4 separate regions of the Homo sapiens genome follow, and regions 1, 2 and 3 are each linked to region 4. Evidence: fine-mapped expression QTL. A gene starts in region 4. Each other region holds a variant in brackets. All regions are shown on one strand. Distances are between the middles of the regions. Region 1 holds the start of PRSS22 (serine protease 22). Region 2 holds the start of FLYWCH1 (FLYWCH-type zinc finger 1). Region 3 has its middle 6.7 kb from the start of FLYWCH1. Region 4 holds the start of FLYWCH2 (FLYWCH family member 2).

What was found.
Region 1: its variant is fine-mapped to the expression of FLYWCH2 in whole blood (TOPMed, PIP 0.99).
Region 2: its variant is fine-mapped to the expression of FLYWCH2 in whole blood (TOPMed, PIP above 0.99).
Region 3: its variant is fine-mapped to the expression of FLYWCH2 in fibroblasts (GTEx, PIP 0.95).

Annotation. Positions count from the first base shown.
Region 1 is chr16:2,855,025-2,860,168 of GRCh38, reverse strand. It overlaps PRSS22 (serine protease 22), which reads left to right and starts at 1,999. Exons shown (of 6, transcript NM_022119.4): 1 at 1,999-2,146; 2 at 3,321-3,347; 3 at 3,916-4,087; 4 at 4,318-4,595. The coding sequence starts at 2,065. RefSeq lists enhancers at 813-1,412, 1,413-2,013, 2,014-2,614. The variant G/A (reference allele first, on the strand shown) is at 2,387.
Region 2 is chr16:2,909,435-2,914,578 of GRCh38, reverse strand. FLYWCH1 (FLYWCH-type zinc finger 1) reads right to left here and starts at 2,648. Exons shown (of 10, transcript NM_001308068.2): 1 at 2,425-2,648; 2 at 290-403. RefSeq lists silencers at 2,015-2,204, 2,178-2,277, 2,308-2,457, 2,478-2,787, 2,838-2,897. The variant G/C (reference allele first, on the strand shown) is at 2,542.
Region 3 is chr16:2,902,688-2,907,831 of GRCh38, reverse strand. No RefSeq gene overlaps it. Among named protein-coding and RNA genes, the nearest start is that of FLYWCH1, 6.7 kb to the left of the region's middle. RefSeq lists silencers at 538-607, 1,774-2,593, 3,264-3,493 and an enhancer at 2,208-2,708. The variant A/G (reference allele first, on the strand shown) is at 2,917.
Region 4 is chr16:2,880,768-2,885,911 of GRCh38, reverse strand. FLYWCH2 (FLYWCH family member 2) reads right to left here and starts at 2,697. Exons shown (of 4, transcript NM_138439.3): 1 at 2,546-2,697. RefSeq lists silencers at 2,262-2,321, 2,412-2,581, 3,082-3,551 and an enhancer at 3,280-3,780.

The DNA of each region.
Region 1 (5,144 bases), 26 kb after region 4:
GAGCTGAGCGGGGGACAGTGAGTAGGGTTGGGGGAGCCCAGCAGAAATTTCTGCTGCAGTGCTGCTGCTGCTCAGAGACACTGCCCCTCCTTGGCCACTCTGCGTGGCCTTTTCCTGCAGTTCCCCCAAACCCCCTCTGAGTCCTGGGACAGAGAATAATGCATCCTCTGGGGCTCCCCAGGGCCCTGCTGTTTGACTTGTCTCTCGGTGGAGCAGGGCATGGCCTCTCTGCCACGAGAAAGTGCCAGTCGTCCTGCTGCCACCCTAACCCTTAACAGACTGAGGAGGTGGGCAGCACAGAGTCCACCCCCAGGGCAAAACCCGTCCTGCTCAGAGCCATGGAGTCCCTGAAGCAGCCATGGTGGTCTGCTAAGCCCCTGACCCACGCCACCCTGACTCTGCAGGGAGCAAGTTAGGGCTCACCCCAGGCAGGGTGAGGCACCTCCTCCAGGCTCCCGAAGCCTCCATGAGGGCAGTCCCAGCAGCCACCCCCAGTGTTGGGGTGCAGGTCCGGCTCCACCACTCACCCAGCAATCTCGGGCAAGTCACTTAACCGCCCTAAGCTGCCTCAGTTTCCTTATCTGCAGAGTGGGAATAATAAAGACATTTGAGGATTAGGAGGCAATGCATGGCACTCCTAAATGTTTGCTCTATTATATAAATACTATATTTATATTTGTATAAATATATTTATTACATACATATTCACTACTATGGTTTTTTTTTTTTTTTTTTGAAACAGAGTCTCGCTCTGTCGCCCAGGCTGGAGTGCAGTGGCGTGATCTCAGCTCACTGCAACCTCCGCCTCCCAGGTTCAAGCGATTCTCCTGCCTCAGCCTCCCAAGTAGATGGGACTAAGGGCGCCTGCCACCATGCCTGGCTAATTTTTTTTTTTTTGTATTTTTAGTAGAGACGGGGTTTTACTATGTTGGCCAGACTGGTATTGAACTCCTGACCTCATGATCTGTCCGTCTTGGCCTCCCAAAGTGCTGGGATTACAGGAATAAGCCACCCCACCCAGACACTATGGTTGTTTTTAATTCACCCCCGGCGGTAGCAAGGGCCCTGCTGGAGGCTTGTTGATCGAATGAGTGAAGGGGCGCAGGCTCCTGCCTCTTTGTAGAGGAGGAAGCCTGCCCTGCTTGGGTGGGAGTGTCCCAAGTGTGGGGCGCTGCAGGGCACTGAGTCAGGGAAGGTCTCACAGGATTCAGCCCCGGGTTGCCACTGTGGCAGCCGCTGGGGGGAAGCACCGAGAATCCACTCCCAGCCCAGGACCCGGCCCCCCACAGCCCAGCCCAGCAGCTCTTTGAATCCTGGGAGTCCCAGCCCTTCCCGGGGCCCCTCTTCTCTCAACCCCCCTGCTTGGCCGAGCCCTGGTGCCCATGGGCTCCTCCCCTTCCCAGGAGTCCAGGTGAGGTGAGTTGTCAGGTGTCTGAACCGCAGGGCAGAGCCCCGCCTCCAGGAACGACAGGAGGGCGGCCACCAGGAGGCCACCAAGGTCGCCACTCACCTGATTCACAGCTTTCGGGAAGTGGGTTAACGGGATTCCCAAGCCCGGGTTGCGCCAGGTCTCTGGGCTGAGTCACAGGGGCCTGGGGCCCTGCAGGTGGGAGCCGTTACTGAGCTTTGGGCACCCCCTTGATCCCTAAGGCCCTAGGACCACCCCCAACACCCAGTACCCCAGACTTCAGCCTCTCCAAACCCAGGCCCTCCCCAGCCCGGAACCCCTTCCTTTCAGTGCCCTGGCACCTTTCTCTGCCCCTGGACAATTAATGTCAGGGACCTCTGGGCCCAAGCCCCCTCCCCTGCCCTTCCAGAGGCCACATCCTGGGGTCTCAGCTAGAGCCCCCCCAGAGCCCTGTAGCGGCTGGCTTCCTCCCCGCAGCCCCGCCCTCTGCCCAGGACCCACAGCCGGGGTGGCCGCGGGAGCCACCTGGGGACTGGTCTGACGGCATTCCGCCTCCCAGGATAAAACCTGGGGCGACCTGCAGGGAACCTACACACCCTGACCCGCATCGCCCTGGGTCTCTCGAGCCTGCTGCCTGCTCCCCCGCCCCACCAGCCATGGTGGTTTCTGGAGCGCCCCCAGCCCTGGGTGGGGGCTGTCTCGGCACCTTCACCTCCCTGCTGCTGCTGGCGTCGACAGGTACGTCCGGAGGCTGCTCCTCCCTCCTCCCTCTCACCTCCACCCTCCTTCCCTCCTTCCCTCCCTCCCTCTCTCCCTCCTGGCCTTGCCTCTCTCATCTCCTTTCCGCTTCTGCTCTGTTTATCTCTTGCTCCTTAACTGCTCTGTGCCTCGGTTTCTTCTACGGCTGTGAGGATGAAACAGAAAACGCAGCAAGTACGCAGCGCGCCTCGGTCTCCAGTTACCGTCGGCGTCGCCATC[G/A]CCTGCTCCCTCTCGCCTCCGTGTTCTCCCATCTCCTCGTCCTCCGCTGCTTGCCTCTGGGGAAGCACCGTTTTGTGTTGTTCCTGCCGCAGGAGGTCAGGGGAGGGCACACCAGCGGCAGCAGCGTCCAGAGCCGAGGGGCTCAGGTCTGTGCCTCCCTCGAGGAGCCGGTCCTGGTCCCCGGAAGGCAGGCTGGACGGGAAGCTGCGGGAGGGCAGGGTCACAGCTGTGCAGCCAGGGCCTGGCCAGGCCCCAGGAAATGCCCCGCCGGTAGGGGCCCTGGGGTTGAGAGACTTGAGAGTCTCCCTGGGCACTGGAGGGCTAGAGGTTCCTCACCACCAGGTACTCAAGGGGACCCCCTCCTCACTGGGCGCTGGGACGCCTGCTCACTGGGCGCTGGGACCCCTCCTCACTGGGCGCTGGGACCCCCTCCTCACTGAGCGCTGGGACCCCCTCGTCACTGGGCGCTGGGGACCCCTCCTCACTGGGCGCTGGGGAGCCCTCCTCACTGGGCGCTGGGGACCCCTCCTCACTGGGCGCTGGGGAACCCTCCTCACTAGGCGCTGGGGAGCCCTCCTCACTGGGCGCTGGGGACCCCTCCTCACTGGGTGCTGGGACCCCTTCCCACTGGGCACTGGACCCCTTCTCACTGGGTGCTGGGGGCTTCTCGCTGGGCGCTGAGGGACCCTCCTCACTGGGTACTGGGACCCCTCCTCACTGGGCGCTGAGGGACCCTCCTCAGGGGGTGCTGGGACCCCTCCTCACTGGGCGCTGAGGGACCCTCCTCACTGGGTGCTGGGACCTCCACCTCACTGGGCACTGGGATCCCTTCTTACTGGGTGTTGGGGGCCTTCCTCACTGGGCGTTGAGGGCCCCTCACCACTGTGTCCTGGGGCCCCTCACCGGCCTAACCGTTTCCTTCTCTTGCCCTCAGCCATCCTCAATGCGGCCAGGATACCTGGTGAGTGGAGCTGGCAGCTCTGACGGGAGGGAGAAGGGAGGAGGCCCACGCGCAGGCAGTGTCTATGTGTCCGTCCCCTGGGCACAGGTCAGAAAGGGGCTGGGGTGAGAGGGGGAAAGAGCTAGAGGGGAAGGGAGGCAGGAAGGAGACACGGATGCAAGGAGAAAGGCTTGAGAGATGCCAGGGCCAGAGGAGAGAGAGAGCCAGGAAGGTGAACAGAGTGGAAAGCAGGGTAAGGAAAGAGGGGGAGGGAGAGACCAGGTGCAGCTGACAAGGAGTGAGTGGAAAGGCCAGGGCCAGGTGAGGACCAGCAGAGAGTGAGGATGGAGGGAGGGATGGGACGGGGAGGTGGGCGGAGCTTGGGGTATGGGTGGAGCTTAGGATGTGGGTGGAGCTTGGGGTGTGGGTGGAGCTTGGAGTGCAAGTGAAACTTGGGATGTGGGTAGAGCTTGGGGACATGAACGGAGCTTGGGCTGTGGGCAAAGCTTGGGGTGCAGGCCTAGGGATTGGGATTCCGGGGGTGGGTTGTAGGAAGTTGGAGATAACAAAACTTGACCGTACCCTCCAGTTCCCCCAGCCTGTGGGAAGCCCCAGCAGCTGAACCGGGTTGTGGGCGGCGAGGACAGCACTGACAGCGAGTGGCCCTGGATCGTGAGCATCCAGAAGAATGGGACCCACCACTGCGCAGGTTCTCTGCTCACCAGCCGCTGGGTGATCACTGCTGCCCACTGTTTCAAGGAGTATGTACAGCCGGCCTGGGGCACTTGATCTTCTAAGGCCCTGGGCTTTGTGCCCCAGGCCCTGGGCTCCCTTTACAGGCTCTGCTTCCGGGCCTCTGTTCAATCTTGGTGCCCCTCGATTCTACCTAGAAGCCTCTCCTGCCTTCAGGGGCCTTCACACCCATGCTGTTCCCCCAGGTACCTCCTCCCAGACCAGGCCTGGCTGATCCTCCCCTTCCCTTTCCTTCCAGCAACCTGAACAAACCATACCTGTTCTCTGTGCTGCTGGGGGCCTGGCAGCTGGGGAACCCTGGCTCTCGGTCCCAGAAGGTGGGTGTTGCCTGGGTGGAGCCCCACCCTGTGTATTCCTGGAAGGAAGGTGCCTGTGCAGACATTGCCCTGGTGCGTCTCGAGCGCTCCATACAGTTCTCAGAGCGGGTCCTGCCCATCTGCCTACCTGATGCCTCTATCCACCTCCCTCCAAACACCCACTGCTGGATCTCAGGCTGGGGGAGCATCCAAGATGGAGGTGCGGCTTCTTCCTCTCCAAGGTGGTTGGGGGCAGATGGGGACAGAGGATGGCAGACACTCAGGGACACAGACACCATGAGCAACAAAGGGTGGAGGCCAGAGGCACAGCATGACAGAGGTGGAAGGAAAGATGGGCTGCAATCCAGAAGAAACCTTGGTGGGCAATTTCAGGCCATTTCTCTTTTCTTTTCTTTCTTCTTCTTCTTTTTTTTTTTTTTTTTTTTGAGACAGGGTGTTACTCTGTCACCCAGGCTGGAGTGCAGTGGTGTGATCCTAACTCACTGCAGCCTTTGCCTCCCAGGCTCAAGTGATCCTCCCACCTCAGCCTCCCAGGTAGCTGGAACTACAGGTGTGTGCTACCACACCTGGCTAATTTTTGTATTTTTTGTAGAGACAGGGTTTTTCTGTGTTGGCTGGGCTGGTCTTGAACTGTTGGGCTCAAGCAATCCACCAGCCTCAGCCTCCCAAAGTGCCGGGATTACAGGTGTGAGCCACTGTGCCTGGCCTCATTTCTACTTCAAAAGTATCTGGCTATGTTTTGAGGCAA
Region 2 (5,144 bases), 29 kb before region 4:
CCGGCAGATTTGCATGGAAAGCTCCAAAGTCTCAGTTCATGGTGCATCACTCTCCTGTCCTCTCTCCCCTTCTCCCAGAATTGAGGGTGCGGAGCAATTTGAGTGCAATGCCAGATGGCCTACTGGGACGCTGCGGTCCTGCTGGTGACCACAAGGGCTCAGCGTAGACCTAAGGGTCACATGTTAGCAACTGTCAGGTGTCTCTCAGACACCAAGGGGTCCAAACTCTAATCAGTAAGGCTCGAAAACCAGGCGGCTCTGTCGGCAGCTGATGGAGCCACAGAATTACCTTCACACGTGAGTGAGAAGCGTCACCATCATCCCCCACACCTGGGTCACGGCGCTGGCTTGCTGGGCAGGAGCCCCGGGGGCAAATCCCGTAACTTCTCTGGGCTGGTTTCACCTGTGAAGAAAGTAAAGTGGCAAATGAAATACTGCAGGTGAAATTATTCCATGAACTGTCGACCATTAGACAAGAACAAGGTGTTCAGCATCCAGGTGCAGTAGGGGTCCTGAGTGATAGGAGCGGGAGGAGGGAAGGCCCTCTGTTTAAAAAGCTTCTGAATGGGCCGGTGGCACGGTGGCTCACACCTGTCATCTCAGCAGTTTGGGAGGCTCAGGTGAGAGAATTGTTTGAGCCCAGGAGTTCGAGACCAGCCTAGGCAACATAGTGAGACCTGCCCCTCGCCCCCACCATTTCTACTAAAAAAATTTTTTTTTAAAGCTCCTGGATGACTCCAGTGTCTACCCACCTCCCACCTACCCGCAACTGAACCATGAGCGTTGGAGGTGCACTTGCCTCAGACATGAACCACTATGGTGACATCACAGGCTCAGTGGGTGCACACAGACATTCCTCCTGAAGAGGTTGAAGGTGGCAGAGATGCCCAGATAATTAAAATTTACTCTAAAAATGAACTTCACAATCTCAGCACCGTTGGCATTTTGGGCCGGATGATTCTGCTGTGGGAGGCTGTCCTGTTCAGCGTGGGGTGTTCAGCAGCAACCCCGGTCTCTACCTGCCAGATCCCACTGTCATGCCCTACCACACGTTGTGACCACCAACACTGCAGAACGTTCCCTGGGGTGCAGAATTGCCCAAGAGCCACAGCTCCAAAGCAACTTAGAAATTAGAGCGCACAGAAAGGGAGAGCTTGGCCAATGAGACCCCCCCAGCCCGGTATTCCCCAGTCACCCTCCATCATAATATAAGTTTATTTACTCCTTCCCACAGCCTAATGCATCCTCAAATCTCTCTCCCTCTATGCCTGATATACCCATCTTCCCTCTCCTTCCCACTCCCACCAACTCAGGACATGATCCCTTACCACGACCTCTTTAGCCCAAGCCAAAGCCTCTGAACGATCTTGCCAGCTTTGGCAAGCAGCCACTCCAATTCTCCACATAGGGTGCTGACAGGTCACTCTTCCTAAAGCTTAACTTTCAGCATGTCTCTCCCCAATTAAATCATCTCCATCTCCAGCCTTAGTGCATCATCAGCTGGGCGTCATAAACACTCCGCAATCTAGCCCCAACCTCAGCCTTGTTCCTTCCACACGTCCCGCCAGTAGCACTTGGGAAAGGAACAAGAGAAACATGATATAATCACACGAGAAAATCTAGATCAAGCCCTGGAAATCATATTGGCCCTTGGAAAGCAGAAATATGCAAATAAAAATAAGCCATTTCGTTGGAATTGGAGTTTGCACATGATTATCTGACTATGGGAGTTCAGCTTCCAGTACAAGGAATAAAGGAACAACAGGCAGGGTTTAGAGCGAGGGTTTCAACTACGTCAGACCCGTTATGTGCAGGCTCCATGGGTTAGCAGCAGCCTTTTGGAACGGGGTGGAAGAGAATGGAACGGAATTTAATCCGAACAGATCCAGCTGCGTCATGTGAGCTTAAACAAGCGTCTCCCTTTAAACTTGTGCTTCAGTCATCCAGACCCACAGGCACAGAGTACACGCGTAAAAGGCATTTCTCAGTGTCGGCTGTGGGTCAACAAAGTTCGAAAGCCGTCACCGGAGATCTATAGGGTCAGAAGCGGGAGCGGGGTGCGTCCCGACCCGCAAAAGTGCAAGGTCACTGGGACCGCCCGAGCTGCAACCGTGGGACGGGGCTGATGCTGCGGGTCCAGGAAGGCAGCGCTGGGCGGGGCAGACACCGCCAGGAAACGGCGGACGAGTGCGGGGATCCTTGATGTGGGGGTGTCGGGCTTAGGCCAGGGGACGGGGGGGTGGGGATGGAGGGGCGAGGAGCAAGGAGGGAATCGCGGGAGACCCCACAGGAGGCGGCCTGAGCGCCGGGACGCAGACCCCTCCCCAGCACCCGCAACCCTCGGGACCCCCGGGAGAGCCGGGCTGCGGGCGCGTCCACGCCGGGGACGCGGGACATTCCCCGCCCGCAGGGGCCTGTCCTCACCGACGGCAGCGGGGCCCTCCCTCTCCCGCGACAGCGCCGCGGCGGATCCTTCAGCCTCTGCCGCTGCAGCAGCGAGCGTCGACCCCGCGACCCAGGCCGCCGCCGCCACCCCGACCC[G/C]GGCACCAGCTCCCAGCCCCGACCTGCCCCTCGGGAGCGAGCCCCGTGACCGCGCGCGCGACCCCGCCGGGGAGCCGGCCTTGCGGAACGCTCAGGCGCGCTACTTCAGAGCATGCGCAGCAAGACCGCGCGGCCCGTTCCTTAGGTAAACCGCTGCTCCGGGTCTTCCCTGCGCGGCGCCGAGCCGCAGGCCTGGCCTGTCAGCGCATGGGGGCGGGGACGTAACTCACGGAAAAGGCGGGGCCATCCCGAGATTGGACGGCGGCGTCCAGGGGCGGAGCTAGGATGGGGGAGCTGAACAGGACGCTCTTGGCGTAAAGGGGCTGGGGTAGGGGGCGCTTAATTGAGACCCCAGGACGGTCCCCAGTATCTGAGGCTGCCCGCAGGAAACGGAGCGTTTGCTGAGATGCACTCTTGGGCCTGTCAGTTTCCTGACCCCGTGGGAAGGCGATTCTCATGCATCTCATTGACGCCCCCAGTGACCCTACCCCAGAGCGGAACCAGTGTGAGATTCAAATAAACAGCGATAGCAACGGATTATAACCTTGACTACGATATGAGTCCAAACTGAAGGAAATAAGTCAACGGGGGAGAAGGGACAGTTGTTTCTTACATCAGAAAGCCAACAACGACAAAAAAATACCTGGGCCGGGCGCGGTGGCTCACGCCTGTAATCCCAGCACTTTGGGAGGCCGAGGCGGGTGGATCACCTGAGGTCAGGAGTTCGAGAACAGCGTGGCCAACATGGTGAAACCCCGTTTCTACTAAAAATACGAACATTAGTCGGGCGTGGTACTGGGCGCCTGTAATCCCAGCTACTCGGGAGGCTGAGGCAGGAGAATAACTTGAACCCGGGAGGCGGAGGTTGCAGTGAGCCGAGACGGCGCCACTGCACTCCAGCCTGGGCGACAGAGTGAGACTGTGTCTAAAAAAAAAAAAGCAGAAATATTACATAGTATTACAAAGTCTGCATGACGTGTGATGTAACACATTGAATGTAGAAGCAGGTATGAGAGCCAGTAGTCTTCTTTTAAGCCCGCAACAAAGATATTTGCAAAAATGTATAACTATGTCACTCGTCTCACTAAATTTCTTTGGGAAAATATTGTACTTTTTCATAAAACTATGTTAACACAATCAGCTTACTATTTTTTGGTAAGATCTTTATTGAAATATAATTCACATACCATGCATTTCTCCCATTTAAAGTGTACAATTAAATGATATGTAGTATAGTCAGAGAGTTGTGCAAACAGCACCATAGTCAGTTTTAAAACCTTTCATCACTCCAAGAAGAAACCTTTAGCCACCACCCTCCAATTTGCTAATCACCCCAGCCCTAAGTAATATGATCTATTTTCTGTCTTTATAGATTTGCGTATTCTGCATATTTCATATAAATGAAATCATGCAACAAATATGTGGTCTCTTGTGACTGACTTCTTTCGCCTAGCCTTAGCATAGCACTTTCAAAGTTCATCCATGTTGGCCGGGTACAGTGACTCTTGCTTGTAATCCCAGCACTTTGGGAGGCTGAGACAGGAGCATCGTTTGAGCCCAGGAGTTTGAGATCAGCCTAGGCAACATAGTGAGACTCTTTCTCTACAGAAAAAAAGAAAAGAGGAACAAGAGAAAATTAGCTGGATGTGGTGATGCGCTGTAGTCCCAGCTACTCAGGAGGCTGAGGTGGAAGGATCACTTGAGCTTGGGAGCTGGAGGCTGCAGTGAGCTGCGCTCATGCCACTGCACTCCAGGCTGGGCGACAGAGCAAGACCCTGTTCAAAAATAAAATAGTAGCAGAACTTAATTACTTTTTTTTTTTCTTGAGATGGAGTCTTGCTCTGTCGCCCAGGCTGGAGTGCAGTGGCACGACCTCAGCTCACTGCAACCTCCATCTCCCGGGTTCAAGTGATTCTCCTGCCTCAGCCTCCTGAGCAGCTGGGATTGGGATTATTACAGACAGTTGCCACCACGCCCGGCTTTTTTTTTTTTTTTTTCTTTTTTGAGACGGAGTCTCGCTCTGTCGCCCAGGCTGGAGTGCAGTGGCGCCATCTCGGCTCACTGCAAGCTCCGCCTTTCGGGTTCACGCCATTCTCCTGCCTCAGCCTCCCGAGTAGCTGGGACTACAGGCGCCTGCCACTGCGCCCAGCTAATTTTTTGTATTTTTAGTAGAGACGGGGTTTCACCGTGGTCTCGATCTCCTGACCTTGTGATCCGCCCGCCTCGGCCTCCCAAAGTGCTGAGATTACGGGCGTGAGCCACCACGCCCAGCCCCTCCAGCTTTTTTTGAGAGGAGTCTGACTGCGATGCCCAGGCTGGAGTGCAATGGCGCTATCTTGGCTCACTGCAACCTTTGCTTTCCGGTTCAAGAGATTGTCCGCCTCAGCTTCCCCAATAGCTAGGACTACATGCGTGCGCCACCATGCCCGGCTGATTTTTGTATTTTTAGGAGAGACGGGGTTTCACCACGTTGTCCAGGCTGATTTCAAACTCCTGACCTCAGGTGATCTGCCCGACTTGGCCTCCCAAAGTGCTGGGATTACAGGCATGAGCCACCATGCCCGGCCAGGATGCTGTTTTTGTTTCTTCGTTTGTTTTGTTTA
Region 3 (5,144 bases), 22 kb before region 4:
AGCAGGACGAGTCGCAGACAAAACTCCTCAGACACCGGATTAAAGAAGGAAGAGGTTTTTTTATTCGGCCGGGAGCGTCAGCAGACTCGTGTCTTAAGAGCCGAGCTCCCTGAAAAAGAAATTCCTAGCCCTTTTAAGGGCTTACAACTCTAAGGGGTCTACGTGAAAAAGTCGTAATAGATCAAGTAAGCATGAGGAACGTGACTGGGGGCTACAAACATCAGTTAACAGAACAAAAAGTTTTATAGTGCTTTCTCATACAATGTCTGGAATTTACAGATAACACCAGTAGTTTTGGTCAGGGGTTAATAATAATATTATTATTTTAGCCACCAGGGCCGGGTGGTGGCGCCAAGGTCGTCTAGCTATTTATCTTACTTCTGTTTCTTTCCAACTTTTTGCTTTCTCTCTTTTCTCCTGTCTTATAAACTAGGGAAAAGGGGAGGTTGGGGAGAAACTGGGAAGGACAACAGGAGAAGTGGTGGCCTCATACCATAATAGGAGCTGAGGGGACACAGTGAGGTGTGACCAGAAGACAAGAGTGCGAGCCTTCTGTTATGCCCGGACAGGGCCACCAGAGGGCTCCTTGGTCTAGCGGTGACGCCAGCGTCTGGGAAGACACCCGTTGCCAGGGGGACCATGGTCTAGCTGTAGCGAAAAGTGTCAAGGAACAACACCCGCTACTTAGCAGACCAGGAAAGGGGGGGGGGGTCTCCCTTTCCCCGGGGGAGTTTAGAGAAGACTCTGCTCCTCCACCTCTTGTGGAGGGCCTGACATCAGTCAGGCTTGCCCACAGTTATCCGGAGACCTAACCGTCTCCCTGTGATGCTGTGCTTCAGTGGTCATGCTCCTAGTCTGCCTTCATGTTCCATCCTGTACACCTGGCTCTGCCTTCTAGATAGCAGTAGAAAATTAGTGAAAGTACTGAAAGTCTCTGATATGCAGAAATAATGGTGTAAGCTGTCTTTCTCTTTGTCTCCTCTCTCTCTCTGCCTCGGCTGCCAGGCAGGGAAGGGCCCCCTGTCCAGTGGACACATGACCCACGTGACGTTACCTATCATTGGAGATGACTCACACTCTTTACCCTGCCCCTTTTGCTTGCATCCAGTAAATAACAGTGCAGCCAGACATTCGGGGCCGCTACCGGTCTCCGCACATTGGTGGTAGTCGTCCCCCGGGCCCAGCTGTCTTTTCTTTTATCTCTTTGTCTTGTGTCTTTATTTCTACACTCTCTCATCGCCGCACACGGGGAGAGACCCACAGACCCTGTGGGGCTGGTCCCTGCACTCTGCCTCCCGGATTCAAGTGATTCTCCTGCCTCAGCCTCCTGAGTAGCTGGGATTACAGGCATGCGCCACCACGCCCGGCTAGTTTTGGATTTTTAGTAGAGTCTGAGTTTCTCCATGTTGGTCAGGCTGCTCTCTAACTTCCGACCTCAGGTGATCCACCCACCTTGGCCTCCGAAAGTGCTGAGATTACAGACGTAAGCCACCCCTCCCGGTCTTAATTTTAATTTTTACTAGAGACGTGGTCTCCCTATGTTCCCCAGGCTGGTCTCAAACTCCTGAGCTCAAGCGATTCTCTCTCCTTGGCCTCCCAAAGCATTGGGAAACAGACGTGAGCCACCCCAGTCAACCTCCTTTTGGGATTCTTGCAACTTTTCTGTAGGTGAGAAATTATGTCAAAGTAGAAGCTAGATAAAGGAATACTCCCTTCATCCCCTGAGCATTCCACGAGGTGAAATCCTCCTTTTCCCATTGGCCCAGCCACCGCCCAGCCCGTGGCCATTGGTCCAGCCCTCGCCCATTGGTCCAGCCCCGGCCCATCCCTCGTCCATTAGTCCAGCCCTTGCCATTGGTCCAACCCATCCATTGGTTCAGCCCCGCCCATTGGTACCGCCCCCTTCCATTGGCTCAGACCCCGTCCTTTGGCCCCGCCCTGCCCATTGGCCCTTCGCTCGCCCATTGGTCTAGCCACGCCCATTGGCCCAGCCCATCCCTCGCCCATTGGTCCATCCCCGCCCTTTTGTTCCACCCCTTCCGTCGGCTTAGTGCCCGCCCTTGGCCCGGCCCGCCCATTGGTCCAGCCCCGCCCATTGGCCCAGCCCCGGCCCAGCCCTAGCCCATTGGCCCCGCCCCGGCCCAGCCCTAGCCCATTGGCCCCGCCCCGCCCATTGGTTCAGCCCCACCCATTGGTTCCGCTCCCTTCTATTGGCTCAGCTCCGCCCCTTGGCCCCACCCCGCCCATTAGTTCAGGCCCCATTCATTGATGTCCAGCACTCGCCCATTGGTCCACGCCTTGCCCATTGGTTTAGCCCTCGACCACTGGCTCACCGCTAGCGAATTGATTCGGTCCCCGCCCACTGGTCCCTCCCCTGCCCACGGGCCCCGCCCTTCCCGCTGTCCCTTCCTGGCTCAGCGCGCGCCAAGGACACATTCTCCAGCAACGCGGTGCGGTACCGGGCTGAGTCCAAGCGCCAGGAGCCGCGGGGTCCTGGTTGCTGTTTTCCTGTGACGCTTGGCGGCGGCGGCCAGAGCGGCCCCAGCACCGTGCCCTGGGCTCACTGCGGCTCTCCTATCACCCAGGGGTCGTCCCGGTCCGCCCGCACTCTTCTCTCCGCCCGACCCCCCTCTGGCTGCGCGTCCTCGGCTGGCTCGGGGAGGGCGCCGCTCCTCCCTGGGAGACCCCAGGGAGACCCGCCTCACGGCCTGCGCACCTCCTCTCGCTCTAAAGCGGCCGCTGGAGGAGCCACAGGTCTGGCGGGTCCATGTCGAGGTGCCCTGGGCTCCCGCACGACCCCACGGCCTCCTGCGTCCCGCACCTCTTGTGTCCTGCAGCCGCCCGCGTCCTCTCTGGGACCCCTTCCTTCCGAGTCCGTCCACATCCCCGGCGGTTCCTCTGAAATCCGCACCCCCC[A/G]ACCCCGGAACCTCGGCTCTTCCGCGCGCTCCTCGTCCCCGCATCCTCAGCCCCTAGATGTCCTCCGCGTTCTGTATCCCCCTGCACCACACCGCTCCCTCTCTCCCTGCCCTTCGCACTAGGACCCTCAGGGACCAAAATCGTCCAAGATGCCTTCCCTGGTGTCGAGTTTATGTTAAGGGGTTGGGTGAGGAGACCAAAAAGCAGTGGATGTGGTAACCACAGGGGCGCCGTGTGTCCGAGTCGGGCGCCTGTCGGAGGAAGCGAGACGGGAGGAGAGGCTGCGGCTCGCGCCCTGGGCAGCGACAGTGTGGACGCCATTGCAATTTCCCAACGGCTGCCACCCGCAGGGTCAACACACAGGCCCCCTCCACCCCTCCCAGTCGCCCACCTCCCATCCCTGCAGAAGCCACCTTAGAGCCGGTGTCTGGGCCGTAAGGAGCCCGGGTGGGGGTCAGGCGGGTGGGCGGAGCGGGACTGAGGCTGCGGGGCGGAACCGCACTCCTGGCTGCCAGCACTGCCTGGGTCCTGGGGAGGCTGCTGGGCCGCCGCTGAGTCCGCGCGCGCCCTCTCCCGGCCGTCAGGAGCATCGGCCAGAACGTCTCCAGATTCCGGCCCTGAACCCGGATGAGGCCCTGCCCAGCGCTCGGTGCTGTCCAAGGAAAATGAGACCTCGAGGTGAAAAGCGCAGAGGCTGTGCACGCTAGGGCCAAGCGGAGGACGCGTTATTACTGTTTTCTTCTTGATGATAAAACCAGGTGTTGACAAATGCCGGAGAGATCGGCATTCGCAGGACGTGGGTTGAATGTAACTTGCATTCTTCCAGTTCGGCAATCTCACTTCTAGAACTCTGTCCTAGGAACATACGAGGCTATTTCAGGATTGCTTACAACCTGGAGGCAACCGGGATGTGTCTGGCCACTGGAGCTAGTGGATTTCACGCATCCCTGCAGTGGGCATCAAGCAGCAAAAAGAATGTTGTGCAGCATTCATAAGAAGGAAGACATTTGTAACACATTATGAAAAAACATATGTGGGCCAGGCACGGTGGCTCATGCCTGTAATCCCAGTACTTTAGGAGGCCGAGGCGGGAGGATGACTTGAGGTGAGGAGTTCAAGACCAGCCTGGCCAACATGGCGAAACCCCGTCTCTACTTAAAAATACAAAAATTAGCCAGGCACGCTAGCGCGCGCCTGTATTCCCACCTACTCGGGAGGCTGAGTCAGGAGAATCACTTGAACCCGGGAGGCGGAGGTTGCAGTGAGCCGAGATCTCCCCACTGCACTCCAGCCTGGACGGCAGAGCGAGACTCTGTCTCAACAACAAATGTGTGGCATCACCTTGATTTTCTGAAAATAAAAAAATTTTAAAAATATATATTTTTTGGCCGGGCGCGGTGGCTCACGCCTGTAATCGTAGCACTTTGGGAGTCTGAGGCGGGTGGATCACCTGAGGTCGGGAATTCGAGACCAGCCTGACCAACATGGAGAAACCCTGTCTCTATTAAAAATAAAAAATTAGCCAGGTGTGGTGGTGCATGCATGTAATCCCAGCTACTGGAGAGACTGAGGCAGGAGAATCACTTGGACCCAGGAGGCAGAGTTTGTAGTGAGCCAAGATCGCACCACTGGACTCCAGCCTGGGCAACAAGAGTGAAACTCTGGCTAAATATATATATATAGCCAGAGTTTATATATACAAATATATAAATATAAATATATATAAATATATAAATAAATATATATAAATATATAAATAAATATATATAAATATATATAAATATGTATAAATATAAATATATATATAGCCAGAGTATATATATTATATACACACACACACACATATATTTTTTAAAATTTACCTCTAAGTAGTGGAATTACTGGAGGTAATTTGTAATTTTTGTCCCCTTTTCAAAATTAAAATTAATGACATCTACACTCAGCAACCACACACATGGGCGGGGGGCACCGTTCTTGGAGCTACTGCAATACCAGGTCGATGCATGGAGTGAACTAAGTAAGCTGCTATTGCAACCCCCTCCTACAAAAATCCACTTTATATACATTTTTTTAGACAGGGTCTCATCATGTCACCCACTCTGGAGCTCAGTGGTGCCATCATGGCTGACTGCAGCCTTGACTTCCTGGGCTCAGGCAATCCTCCAGCCTCAGCCTCTTGAGTAGCTGGACTATAGGTGAGCTCAGGTGATCCTCCTGGCTCAGCTTCC
Region 4 (5,144 bases):
CCAGCCTGGCAGTTCCTCAAAAGGTTAAATGTAGAGTTACCCTATGACCCAGCAATTCCACTACTAGCTATATGCCTGGAAGAAAGGAAAACACATGTCCACATAAAAATGTGTACATGAATGTTACAGTTGCATTATTCATGAAAGCCAAAACGTTTCGATGGATATTCAAAACAGCCCAAATATCCATCAATGGATGAATGAATAAGTACAATGTGGTGCATGTATAAAATGGAATATTATTTGGCAGTAAAAAAAATCTATGCTACAACATGAATGAACCTTGAAGAAATTATGCTCGGTAAAAGAAGCCAGACCCAAAAGACCACATATTATATGATTCCATTTACATGAAATTACTTAGAGTCTAGAGAATCTACAGAGTAGGAAAATCTATGGAGACAGAACGTAGATTTGTGGTTATCTCGGGATTGGGGTGGGGAAGGGGAGAATGAGAATTGACTACTAGTGGGTATGTGCTTTATGGGGTGATGAAAATGTCCTAAAAGGAATTTTCATGAGGGTTGCACAACTTTGTGATCACACTAAAGCCACTGAACTGTATATTTTTTTTTTTGTTTTGTTTTGTTTTTTTGAGACGGAGTCTCGCTCTGTCGCCCAGGCTGGAGTGCAGTGGCGTGATCTCACTGCAAGCTCCGCCTCCCGGGTTCACGCCATTCTCCTGCCTCAGCCTCCGGAGTAGCTGGGACTACAGGCGCCTGCCACCACGCCTGGCTAATTTTTTGTATTTTTAGTAGAGACGGGGTTTCACCGTGTTAGCCAGGATGGTCTCGATCTCCTGACCTCGTGATCCGCCCTCCTTGGCCTCCCAAAGTGCTGGGATAACAGGCGTGAGCCACCGCGCCCGGCCGAAATGTACACTTTAAATGGGTAAATTGCACGGTATGTGAATTATCTCAATAAAGTTGTTAAATATTCAGAAAAAGGTAAATTGAGTCTATGAACATATGAACAGCAGTTCCCCAATGTCACTATCCCTAAGAATCACCCGGAGTTTTTTTTTTGTTTTTGTTTTTTAGACGGAGTATCGCTCTTGTCGGCCAGGCTGGAGTGCAGTGGCGCGACCTTGGGTCACTGCAACCTCTGCCTCCCGGGTTCAAGCCTTTCTCCTGTCTCAGCCTCCCAAGTAGCTGGGATTACAAGCGTGCACCACCACACCCGGCTAATTTTGTATTTTTAGTTGAGACGGGGTTTCTCCATGTTGGTCAGGCTGGTCTCGAACTCCCGACCTCAGGTGATCCACCCTCCTTGGCCTCCCAAAGTGCTGGGATTACAGGCGTGAGCCACCGCGCCGGCCCCGACTAATTTTTGTATTTTTTTTTTTTTTTTTTTAGTAGAGACGGGGTTTCACCATGTTAGTCAGAATGGTCTCTATCTCCTGACCTTGTGATCTGCCTGCCTCGGCCTCCCAAAGTGCTAGGATTACAGGCGTGAACCACCGCGCCCGGCCTGTGTTGCTTTAAGCCACCTTATTTGTTAGGACAGCAACAGGAAACTAATACAAGGTTCAATCCCTCACTGACGATGTTCTGGACGACAGGACCCCTGCCTGGTGCCTCATGGTGGACCCACAGAATCATCTTCATACGCACGGGGGAGAAACATCACTAATGTCCACCAGCACCGGCATCCTCAGCCGCGAGGACAAATCCCTTACCCTCCCAGCAGGTTTCATCTGCGTAACGGAAATAGTGGTGAATTTATCAGGGGCTGTTAATAGATGACAGGCAAGGGTGAAGTCATCGCAAAAGTTCCCAGACGATATGGACAGCTGCTCCCCAATAATTACTGCTCCACGCAGTCCACAGCGGGGCTGTTATTGACCCCGACAGGATGACGGGACACTAAGGTGTGCAGTACACGTCCTCACAGGGAGATTTAAAAAACCGGCAGTGACCCCTGCCCCAAGAAGGCCAAGAACTGCTACTCTAAGGTGTGCAGCGCGGAGCTTCCCCACCATGGCAATTTCAGCCATGGCAGCTCCTTCCCCTAATCACCAGGGCTCAGAATCTTTATTTCACTCCTTTACCCAATGCAATTGGCATCAAACGCGGGCTGGGCTGCGCCCAAATGGTCCCAGCTCCCCGGCTCTCTCCTCTCTCAAGAATACCCACACCCTGAGGCCCCGAGTGTCTCCCCCGCCCCAGTATCTCACGCCTCCAACTCGCTGCCGTCCCTGCAGGGACCTCCCGAGCTGCAACCGTGGGACGAGGCCGGCGGGGGTTGGGGGGTGCCGGGAAGGCAGCGCTGGGCGCGGCGGACACGGCCAGGGACCGGCGGGCGAGTGCGGACCTCCTTCGTGTGGGGGTGTTGAGGCTTTGGACAAGGGACTGGAGGGGGTGGGGAAGGAGGGGCGAGAGGCAAAGAGGGAATCGCGGGAGACCCCACAGGAGGCGGCCTGAGCACCAGGACGCGGACCCCTCCTCAGCACCCGCAGCCCTCGGGACCCCCGAGAGAGCCGGGCCGGGGACTCGTCCATGCCGAGGACGCAGGACCCTCCCCGCCCGCCAGGGCCCGTCCTCACCGACGACAGCGGTGCCCTCCCTCTCCGGCGACAGCGCCGCGGCGGGTCCCTCAGCCTCCGCGCCAAGGGCCCCAGCCTCAGCTCGCGCTGTTACCTCAAGCCGGGGTCACAGCGCGAGCATGCGCAGCAAGGCCGCGGGTGCCCTGTCTTCTGGCTGGGGCCGCTCCTCCGCGTCTTGCCCGTGCGGCGTAGAGCTGGCGTCCGGCCAATCGGAGGGCGGAGGCGGGGCCAAAATTCAGTAAGGGGGCGGGGACACCCGGGATTGAGTGTCGCCGTCAGGGGCGGAGCCTCGGGGGACCTGCGGCCTGGATCCGGGTTGCGGGCGAGGTTATCCCAGCACCAGTGGGTTGGGCTTCACTGCGACCCCCGGGCTTCCTCACGGATTTGACTCCGGCTCTCTGCGGGGAAAACTGGAGCATTTGTTTAAAGGTTTTGCTCTCCCCCGTCGCGATACCGAGCGTGCGGAGGGAAGGTGTTTAGGCTCATGGAAGCCACTGCCTTGCTTTAAGCTCTGCATCCTTGACGACGCAGCAGCCTCATCCGCGCCATTGGTCCAGCCCTCGTCTATTAGTTTAGCCCCTGCCCATTGGTCCAGCCCTCGCCCAATAGTCCCGCCCTCTCTCTGTAGTTCAGCCCCTGTCCATTCATCCTTTCTCGTTATTGGTCCAGCCCTGGCCCATTGGGCCCACCCGTGCCCACGGGCCCCGCCCTCTCCGTGCCCAACCACGTTCACCCGGCCCAAGGGGTGCCCGGGACACTCGCCATCCTCCAGCCACCCACTGCAGTGGGACTGGGCTGGGTCCGGGCACAGGGAGCTGTGGGGCCCTGGGCGCTGCTTTCCTGGGACACTTGGCTGCAGCGTCCAGAGCGGCCCCCGCACAGCCCCCTAGGCTCACCGCGGCTCTCCCAGCCCCGCGGGGTCGCCCCCACTACCCCGGCCACCTTGGTCCCCCTAAGCCTGGCTCCGCGCCCCGCCCCCCTCGCTCTAAAGCGGCCGCTGAATGTGCCACCGCCCCAGGGCTCCAGGGTCCAGGTCGAGATCCTCTGGGGCCTCCCGCACCTTCCGCCTTCTCACGTCCGAATGCCAGCGTCGCTGCACGCCCTTCCTCTGCCCTGCCCCTCCCGGCCCTGGCTCTGCAGGTCTCTGAATCCCACCGTGGACTCCGCTACCAAGGCTCCCGCTGCCCCCATCCCACTATCCTATCTCCCCGGGCATTGTCTGGTGTCATTCAAGGCCTTTGTGCTTTTTTTTTTTTTTTAGAAACGAGAATTGCGCTCTGTCGCTCAGGCTGGAGTGCAGTGGCGTGATCTCGGCTCGCTGCAACCTCTGCCTCCCGGGTTCAAGCAATTCTCATGCCTCAGCCTACTGAGTAGCCGGGATTACGGGCGCCCGCCACCACGCCCGGCTAATTTTTGTACTTTTAGTAGAGACGGGTTTCACCATGTTGGCCAGGCTGGTATTGAACTTCTGACCTCAGGTGATCCACCCGCCTCGGCTTCCTAAAGTGCTGGGATTACAAGAGTGAGCCACCGTGCCCAGCTACCTTTGTGCATTTATTTGCTGTTATCTATTAATCATTCACAGACTACTGGTTGTTTTTAACTTGATGATGTTATAAATATCTTTGTATATGAATCTCTGATGTCAAAGATTTTTTTTTTTTTTTTTTGAGATGGAGTCTCGCTCTGTCGCCCAGGCTGGAGTGCAGTGGCGTGATCTCTGCTTATTGCAACCTCCGCCTCCCGGGTTCAAGCGATTTTCCCGCCTCAGCCTCCCAAGTAGCTGAGATTACAGGCACCGGTAATCATGCTTAATTTTTATATTTTTGTAGAGATGGGATTTCACCATGTTGGCCAGGCTGGTATCAAACCGGAGTTACCTCCGGTGATCTGCCCACCTCGGCCTCCAAAAGTGCTGGGATTAGACATGTGAGCCACCTTGCCTGTCGAGATATTAAAGATTTTTTTTTTTTGAGACAGAGTCTCACTCTGTTGGCAAGACCGGAGTGCAGTAGCACGATCTCAGCTCACTGCAACCTCCGCCTCCTGGGTTCAAGTGGTTCTCCTGCCTCAGCCTCCCAAGTAGCTGAGATTACAGGCGCCTGCCACCGCACCCAGCTAATTTTTTTGTATTTTTAGTAGAGACGGAGTTTCACCATCTTGGCCAGGCTGGTCTTGAACTCCTGACCTCGTGATCCACCCGCCTCAGCCTCCCAAAGTGCTGGGATTACAGGTGTGAGCCACCGCACCCAGCCAAAGATTTCTTGAAAGTCTTAAAAGAGGTCAAAGGAGGCAAATATTTTTAAAAGCTTTTTAAACATGTAGCCAAATTGTCCCCAAGGAAGTGCACAAGCTTGGGGTTAGATGCTTGGGTTCAAGTCCCTGCTGTGTCAATTGCCAGCTGTGTGAATGAGCAATTACATCCCCTCTCTGTGCCTCAGTGTCTTCACCTGATAAATGGGGGTGATAACGCACCCACCTCCTACAGCCATTGTGAGAATTCACAGAGTATTGTCATGTGGACTGATAAGAGTCTTGGTTGTTTTCTGTTTCTTTTTGTTTTTGTTTGAAACAGAGTTTCACTCTTGTTGCCCAGGCT